2 linked regions of the Homo sapiens genome follow. The protein of the gene in region 2 interacts with the protein of the main gene of each other region in a pairwise test. Each region holds a gene or a part of one and is shown on either strand. Other genes may lie near its edges.

Evidence for each region.
Region 1: the proteins of ANKRD53 (region 2) and LZTR1 interact in a two-hybrid assay, tested with the Homo sapiens proteins (one large-scale study listed by BioGRID and IntAct).

What each region holds. Positions count from the first base shown.
Region 1 is NC_000022.11:20,984,988-20,988,796, forward strand, and holds part of LZTR1 (leucine-zipper-like transcriptional regulator 1), read left to right. Parts: intron 1-853; coding exon 854-910; intron 911-2,516; coding exon 2,517-2,596; intron 2,597-3,022; coding exon 3,023-3,131; intron 3,132-3,801; coding exon 3,802-3,809. UniProt on the Homo sapiens protein: Substrate-specific adapter of a BCR (BTB-CUL3-RBX1) E3 ubiquitin-protein ligase complex that mediates ubiquitination of Ras (K-Ras/KRAS, N-Ras/NRAS and H-Ras/HRAS).
Region 2 is NC_000002.12:70,976,851-70,981,458, forward strand, and holds the start of ANKRD53 (ankyrin repeat domain-containing protein 53), read left to right. Parts: upstream 1-1,779; 5' UTR 1,780-1,795; coding exon 1,796-1,965; intron 1,966-2,246; coding exon 2,247-2,493; intron 2,494-2,810; coding exon 2,811-3,010; intron 3,011-4,608. UniProt on the Homo sapiens protein: Required for normal progression through mitosis. Involved in chromosome alignment and cytokinesis via regulation of microtubules polymerization.

The sequences.
Region 1 (3,809 bases), on a different chromosome or scaffold from region 2:
CTGAGGTGGGAAGATCACTTGAGGCCAGGCATTCAAGACGAGCCTGGGCAGGAAAGCAAGACTTCGTTTCTATTTTTTTTTTTTTTTTTTTGAGATGGAGTCTTGCTCTGTCACCCAGGCTGGTGTTCAGTGGCGCCATCTTGGCTCACTGCAACCTCTGCCTCCCGGGTTCAAGCGATTCTGCCGCAGCCTCCCGAGTAGCTGGGATTACAGGCGCCTGCCACCATGCCAGGCTAATTTTTTTGTATTTTTAGTAGAGATGGGGTTTCACCATGTTGGCCAGGCTGGTCTCAATCTCCTGACCTCAAGTGATCCGCCCGCCTAGGCTTCCCAAAGTGCTGGGATTACAGGCGTGAGCCACCGAGCCCAGCCCATTGTCTCTATTTCTTTTTTTTAAGAAGTGGCAGGAAGATCAGAGAGAAGCAAAGGGCCTCTCCTGAGGCACGGGCAAGCACTTGCATTGCAGGGTACAGCTGCAGAGGAAGGGGATTGGGACGTGTGAATAGGGGTTCTGGAGGCTAGGGTGAGGTGTGAGGGTGACTCTGGCCTTTGGGCCATTTCATGCCTTCATGTCAGCTGCTGGTTGGGCTCCTGGTGGCCACATTCATGCTTTGGTCCTGACCCCAGGCAGGCTGGTGTCTGCCTGTGTGGCAGCCCTGGTGCCCATATCAGTTGGGGAGCCTCCTTTGTGGTCACCACTCTTGTTCTTGGGCATCAGCTGGTTGCCTGGCTGTGTTAGTGACCCAGCCCACAACAGCCCCCTACTCTACCCTGGCTACATGCAGTGCCCATCTCTGGGGTCACTGCAGAGTAGACCTGGCTAATGCCACCCTCTCTTCCGGCTGCCTTTCAGGAAGACCATGCTCAATGACCTCCTGCGGTTCGATGTGAAAGACTGCTCCTGGTGCAGGTGGGTGGCCCCGTGCTCCAGGGCCCTGCCTTTCCTCCTAGAACACAGTGGCACAGTGCTGGGTCCCAGTTGCTAGCAGAGTCTCTCTCATCATGGGAAGCTAGAAAGAAGCTTCCAGGAGGAGATAACCACGGCCTCAGGGATGCCACATCCAGAGCCGCCCTGTCAGGCTGAGGAGATCAAGTAACCACCCCGCACCTGCAGCTGCCAAGCTGGGCACACAGGGCGGCACCCTTCTGGGCTGTCCACCTCTACCTCGAGGCTGATGCTAGTATGGGTACAGAAGTTGCTATGTCTTTTCTCTCACACTTGATTTTGTAAGATGGCTAGTAGTTACAAATTAATTTAAAAAATCATTCTGAAGGCTTCACAATTATTTGTCAAAAATTGCTTAAGTATAAAACTCAGAAAAAAGCTAGGAGTTCAAGACCAGCTGGGCAACAAAGTGAGACCCTGTCTAGGAAGATAGATAGACAGATGATAGATAGATAGATAGATAGATAGATAGATAGATAGATAGAAAGAAAGATAGATAGATGATAGAAAGACAAAGAGAGATGATAGATAGATGATAGGTAGATTAGACAGATAGATGACAGATAGATAGATAGTGGATAGATGATAGATGACAGATCGATAGATAGATGATAGGTAGATGATAGGTAGGTAGATTAGATAGATGATGGGTAGATAGATGACAGACAATAGATGATAGATGATAGGTAGATAGATGATAGATGACAGATAGATGATGGATAGATTATATAGGTAGATGATAGGTGGATAGATGATGGATATATAGATTATATAGATTAGATGATTGATAGATGATAGGTAGATAGATAGATGATGGTTAGATAGATAGGTATTAAATGAAATTGATGGACCCCGTGCTGTAAGATGCTGCACTGCTGCTGAGAGCAGGAGTGTGGATGGTCCTGGAGTAGCATGAGGACCTGGTCACATTCTGTGAGTGGAATAAGCAATTTACAAAATATCTGCCACTTGATTCCATTTTAAAAAATTTCATGGAAGCCTAAGTATGCGTAGGAGAGGTGTGCAGGGAAGACCTCAAGGTGTTGCCAGAGGTTTTCTGGTAATGGGAATTTGCATGAGCTTTAGTGCCTATTTTGTTTTTTCCTTATTGGTGATTTTTTTTTTTTAAGTTTCTATGATGAGACAGGTATCACCTTCAAAATACAAAAGTGAAACGTAGCTGGGCGCGGTGGCTCACGCCTGTAATCCCAGCACTTTGGGAGGCTGAGGTGGGCGGATCACCTGAGGTCAGAACTTCAAGACCAGCCTGGCCAACATGGTGAAACCCCGTCTCTACAAAAATACAAAAAATTAGCTGGGCATGATGGTGGGTGCCTGTAATCCCAGCTACTCAGGAGGCTGAGGCAGGACAATCGCTTGAACCCAGGAGGTGGAGGTTGAGCCGGGATCGTGCCACTGCACTCCAGCCGGGACGACAGAGAGAGACTCCGTCTCAAAAAAAAAAAAAAAGAAAAAAGAAAGGCAGCACAGGGATGCAGGGCCACCCTGTGGGGGTGTGGACCTCATGGGTGACCCCCGCTGACTCTCACCACCCCTGTGCCCACCCCAGGGCCTTTACCACTGGGACCCCACCGGCCCCCCGTTACCACCACTCGGCCGTCGTCTATGGGAGCAGCATGTTTGTCTTTGGTAAGCAGCCTCTTGCCTCCCAGGGGCTGTGTCGCCCCGAGGCCCACAGACACCCTGCCCTTCTGCAGGCCTGGGGCATTTGTGCTCGTGCTGTGTACAGCAGGGGCTCTCTCTCCACCCGTGGCTTTGTCTGCCAGTCTTCGGAATTCTGCGCTGGATCTGGGACCCCTTGCCCTAACGGCCCTGAGCTCACAGGGTTGGGTGTCTTTCTGTGTTACTGAGCTGTGGCTGGGAACAGTGTCCTGCTCATCTCTGTGTCCCCAGAGCCCAGCACAGAGGCAGACAGGCAGCAGGTCGTTCCGGGGCTTGTGGAAGGAGTCCTGGCTTATGCATTTTCAGGGGGGCCAGATTCTGCTCCACCTTCCAGGGTTTGAAATCTCCAAGACTGCCCTTTGGGTTTGACAGTTTCTCACTCTCTTTACTCAGGGGGTTACACTGGGGACATTTATTCCAATTCTAACTTGAAGAATAAAAACGACCTCTTTGAATACAAGTTTGCAACTGGCCAGTGGACGGAGTGGAAAATTGAAGGACGGTGAGAAACTTTGCAGAAACATTTGGGACAGGCTGGGTCCTGGGTGGCATTGGACCTGGGATCTGCCCCCTTTTGCCTCCCAGATGAGGACCCTGAGGGCACGCAATAGCAGGGAGCTTGGGATTGGTGGAATATCCCCCGGTGCAGCTATGCATGGCCTGCTCCCAGCCCTTAGACTCCCTCCTTTCAGAAGAGACCCAAATGGACCAGGCGTGGTGGCGCATGCCTGTAGTCCTAGTACTTTGGGAAGCCGAGGTGGGAAGATCACTTGAGCCCATGACTTCAAGGCTGCAGTGAACCATGTGTGCCCCACTGCACTCCAGCCTGGGAGACAGAACAAGACCTTGTCACAAAAAAATGTTCAATAAGATCCAATGTACTGCTGATGGCGCTTCTGGGGTCCCGCTTTTTGAGCACCCCCTTTGATATTTTGGGGGCACCTAGGAGAAGGTTCTGTGCCTCTGTGGCTGTCTGAATTCCTCTTCAAGCCACTAGTCGGCCTCTGGGGCTGTTGTTTATTCCTAGTGCCTTGTGGAGGTCCTGAAGCCCCAGTGTCGGGTGGATGTAGCCATGCAGCCTGGCTGTGGCCCCTGCACTGACCACATGGGGCTGGGTGGCTCAGGTCTGTGCTGGGCGGCCTCACTCCCTCCCCTCTTCCCTCACACTCCAGGTTGCCAG
Region 2 (4,608 bases):
AGATTGTAGAAATAAAGACACAAGACAAAGAGATAAAAGAAAAGACAGCTGGGCCCGGGGGACCACTACCACCAAGAGGGCAGAGATCGGTAGTGGCCCCGAATGCCTGGCTGTGCTGTTATTTATTGGATACAAGGCAAAAGGGGCAGGGTAAGGAGTGTGAGTCATCTCCAATGATTGATAAGGTCACGTGAGTCACGTGTCCACCGGACAGGGGGCCCTTCCCTGCTTGGCAGCCGAGGTGGGTGGGGGTGGGGGCGGGGACAGGGGGAGGGAGAGAGAGAGAGAGAGAGAGGACAGCTTACGCCATTATTTCTGTGTATCAGAGACTTTTAGTACTTTCACTAATTTTGCTACTGCTATCTAGAAGGCAGAGCCAGATGTACAGGATGGAACATGAAAGTGAAACAGGAGTGTGACCGCTGAAGTACAGCGTCACAGGGAGATGTTTAGGCCTCCAGATAACTGTGGGCGGGCCTGACTGATGTCAAGCCCTCCACAAAAGGTGGTGGAGTAAAGTCTTCTCTAAACTCCCCCTGGGAAAGGGAGACTCCCTTTCCCGGTCTGCTAAGTAGCGGGTGCTTTTCCTTTGCATTGATGCTACCGCTAGACCACGGTCCGCCAGACCAGGGTCCGCCAGACCACGGTCCACTTGGTAACCGGCGTCTTCCCAGACGCTGGCATTACCGCTAGATCAAGGAGCCCTCTGGTGGCCCTGTCCGGACATAACAGAAGGCTCGCACTCTTGTCTTCTGGTCACTTCTCACTATGTCCCTTTGGTTCCTATCTCTCTATGGCCTGGTTTTTCCTAGGTTATGATTATAGAGCGAGGATTATTACAATATTGGAATAAAGAGTAATTGCTACAAACTAATGATTAACGATATTCATATATAATCACGTCTATGATCTAGATCTAGATCTAGTATAACTCTTGTTGTTTTGTATATTTTATTATACTGGAACAGCTTGTGCCCTCGGTCTCTTGCCTTGGCACCTGGGTGGCTTGCCGCCCACAGAAACTAAGTCAGATAACTTGCCAAAAGCCACACTGCTGATGTGCAGCGCACCCGCTTCACTGCAGGTGGAAGTGGAAGTGAATAATAACCTTCCTGGAAGGCAGTCTGCAAGCCCATATTGACAGCTGAAAAATATTCATTCCCTTTCACCTAGTGATTCGACTCCCAGGAATCCATTCTAAGAAAACAACCAGAGTTGAGCCATTTCGTTCTTGGCAGCACATGTGAAACAATGGCACATCCATTATGACGCTGGGCTCTGGTTGCGTCATAATGTACGTTTAGTATGTGGAGTGACAATGGGCGCTAGCTCGTAATATAATGCTATTAATAAACGAAAAGAGATACAAAAAATAGTCATGATATGCATATATATTGCAATAAACCATGATTTCTGTGCGTGGTGGGATGGTAATTTTTAATTTCCACATTGAATATTTCTGTTTTCTACTTATTAGTTTGATAATCGGAAACAAAAGCCAAGTGTCTTTGTTGTTTGTGTGTTTGATGCTGAGTTTCCCGGGCAGCAGGACTGGGAGGTTGAGTGGGGGTTTTGGCTCAGACCGGGAGCAGAGCGGCGGGTGGGGAGCGGCAGGCGGGCAGGGTCCCCGGAGGCCCCCGGGCTCTGCCCCTCCAGCTAGAGAGGCAGCCGAACCCTAGCGGCCTGGAAGGGGCCGGGAAACCGCGGCCAGCTGGCAAGGAGTGGCCCCCGGGGGCGGGGCGCCGGCGGGTGTGTGAGTAGCCCGCCCGGCCCGGGTCCGAGTTCCAGCCCCGCGATGGCCTCCGCGGGCAGCACCGCTCGGCGGGCGGGCTCCGGAAGCTGGCACTCAGAAAGGGGAGAAGGGAGAGGTGCTCGGCCGCAGCCAACTCCAAGTGGCTCCATGCAGCAGGCGAACAAAGTCTCCTTGAAGGCCACCTGGACTGACGCGGAGTCCAAGCAGCCCAGGTGGGTAGCGGGAGAAGGTGTCCCGGCTGCAGGGAGCGAGAACCCGGCCCAGCGCCTCCCTGGTGGGCAGGGCCTGGAGCGGGCGGGGGCGGAGGCTGCGGCCCGAGAAGCCAGCAGAGACAGGCTGGGGCCAGGGATCGCCTCCCGAGAGGTGCCTAGGCCGTGGCCCAGAGTCGCTTCCCCACTGCCCCGCCCACCAGCCAGGCGGGGGCCAGGGATCGCCTCCCGAGAGGTGCCCGGGCCGTGGCCCAGAGTCGCTTCCCCACTGCCCCGCCCTCCAGCCAGCCCCTGCCCGACCTCGCAGACCACCTCAGTGCGCAGGCGACTGCCCTCGCCAGGCCGCGCCGCCCTGCCTCGCTCACCCCGCCCCGCGCTGACCCCAGCCCCAGCAAGGAGTCCGACCAGACGGCAATCGACCAGACGGCGATCGGGAGCTACTACCAGCTGTTCGCAGCGGCTGTGGGCAACGTGGAATGGCTGCGATTCTGTCTGAACCAGAGCCTCAGGGAAATCCCCACCGACGACAAGGTAAGGTCTTGAGTGTTGGGGCAAAGACCGAGGTCCCTCTCCCGCTACGCTGCTCGGAGTGGTCACCTGGAGAAGAGATATCCTTTTCTGGGTAGATCTTCCTAATTTAACTCATCTTCTGGCTGTGGAAGGACCATTTTGGGGGCAGGGAGGTTGGGTGGGCTGATGAACACACACTGGTTAATTAGCAAAAGGGTGTGAGCATTCCTGGGGACACAGGGAAGAAAGTGAAGGTAACCCCAATAAATTTATATAAATTGTGGACCCTGGGACCTCAGTCCCACTCAGCCTCCTCCTGCCTGCTCTGAACCTCACAGGGCTTCACTGCCATCCACTTCGCCGCCCAATGGGGCAAGCTTGCATGCCTGCAGGTCCTGGTAGAGGAGTACAAGTTTCCCGTGGACCTGCTGACCAACAATAGCCAGACACCCCTGCACCTCGTCATCCACAGGGACAACACCACCGTGGCCCTCCCCTGCATCTACTACCTGCTGGAGAAAGGCGCAGACCTCAATGCGTGAGTCCAGCCTGCTTCAGGAGGGAGGCTTCGGGCACAGGCACGGGCACAGCCCTACTTCCAGGCAGGCAAATCCATGCAGGACAAGCAGAGGGGTTGCTGGAGGTGACAAGGATTGGGTCCCACATAAAGCAGTCAGGAATCCACATGGTGTAATAAAGAGACTGGGCTTTAGCCGGGCATGGTGGCTCATGCCTATAATCCCAACACTTTGGAAGGCCGAGGCAGGCGGATCACCTGAGGTCAGGAGTTCAACACCAGCATGACCAACATGGAGAAACCCCATCTCTACTAAAAATACAAAATTAGCAGGGCATGGTGGCGCATGCCTGTAATCCCAGCTATTCGGGAGGCTGAGGCAGGAGAATTGCTTGAACCCAGGAGATGGAGGTTGCGGTGAGCTGAGATGGTGCCATTGCACTTCAGCCCGGGCAACAAGAGCGAGACTCCGTCTCAACAAAAAAAAAAAAAAAAAAAAGATTGGCCTTTAACAGACCTAGTCTACATCCCAGCTCTGCAACTTGCTAGCAGACAGCAGGACCTTAGGCAAGTCACTCAACCTCTATGCCCCAGTACTCTGGCTCCCAAACTTAGGTGTACATTGGAATTACCTAGGGAGCTTAAAAAATATGAACACCTGGCCGGGTGGCATGGTGGCATAGTCCCAGCTACTTGGGAGGCTGAGGCAGGAGAATCGCTTGAACCCGGGAGGTGGAGGTTGCGGTGGGCCGAGATTGCTCCAATGCACTCCAGCCTGGCAATAGAGCGAGACTGTCTCAAAAAATAAAAAATAAAAAAAATTAGGCTGGCCGCAGTGGCTCACGCCTGTAATCCCAGCACTTTGGGAGGCTGGGGCGAGCGGATCACGAGGTCAGGAGATCAAGAACATCCTGGCTAACATGGTAAAACCCCGTCTCTACTAAAAATACAAAAAAGTTAACCGGGCGTAGTGGCGGGTGCCTGTTGTCCCAGCTACTTGGGAGGCTGAGGCAGGAGAATGGCGTGAACCTGGGAGGCAGAGCTTGCAGTGAGCCAAGATCGTGCCACTGCACTCCAGCCTGGGCGACAGAGCGAGACTCCGTCTAAAAAAAAAAAATTAAAAAATATAAACACCTGTGTTCCAATCCAAAGGCTGTGATTTAATGGGTCTGTGGTGTGACCTGGGCTTGGGAAGTCAGAAAAGATCCCCAGGTGCTTCTAACTTGAAGCTAAGTTTGGGAACCTCTGTCTCAGTGTCTTCAACTGAAACTTGGGAGAATAGCAGTACCTATCACATGGGACTACTGTGATCACTGAAAAGTGCATGGCATATAGGAGACTGCATTCATTCAAAGTATCAAGTATGCACTATGTGCTAAGCACTATGCTAGAGTCACAGAAATGGTCCCTCTCCTCACGAAGCTGACATTCTAGTAAAGGAGCAGACAGTGAATTAGCAAACAAATAAATGAACAAAATCCTGACAGAGCATGGGAAGTGGTTATGAAAAAATAAACGGGGTGATGGTGTAGGGGGTAAAGCAGGTAGGGGGAGGATCTATTTTGGATGAAGCAATCACCTCTAAGGAGGTGACATTTAAATTGGAACCTGAAGACAGA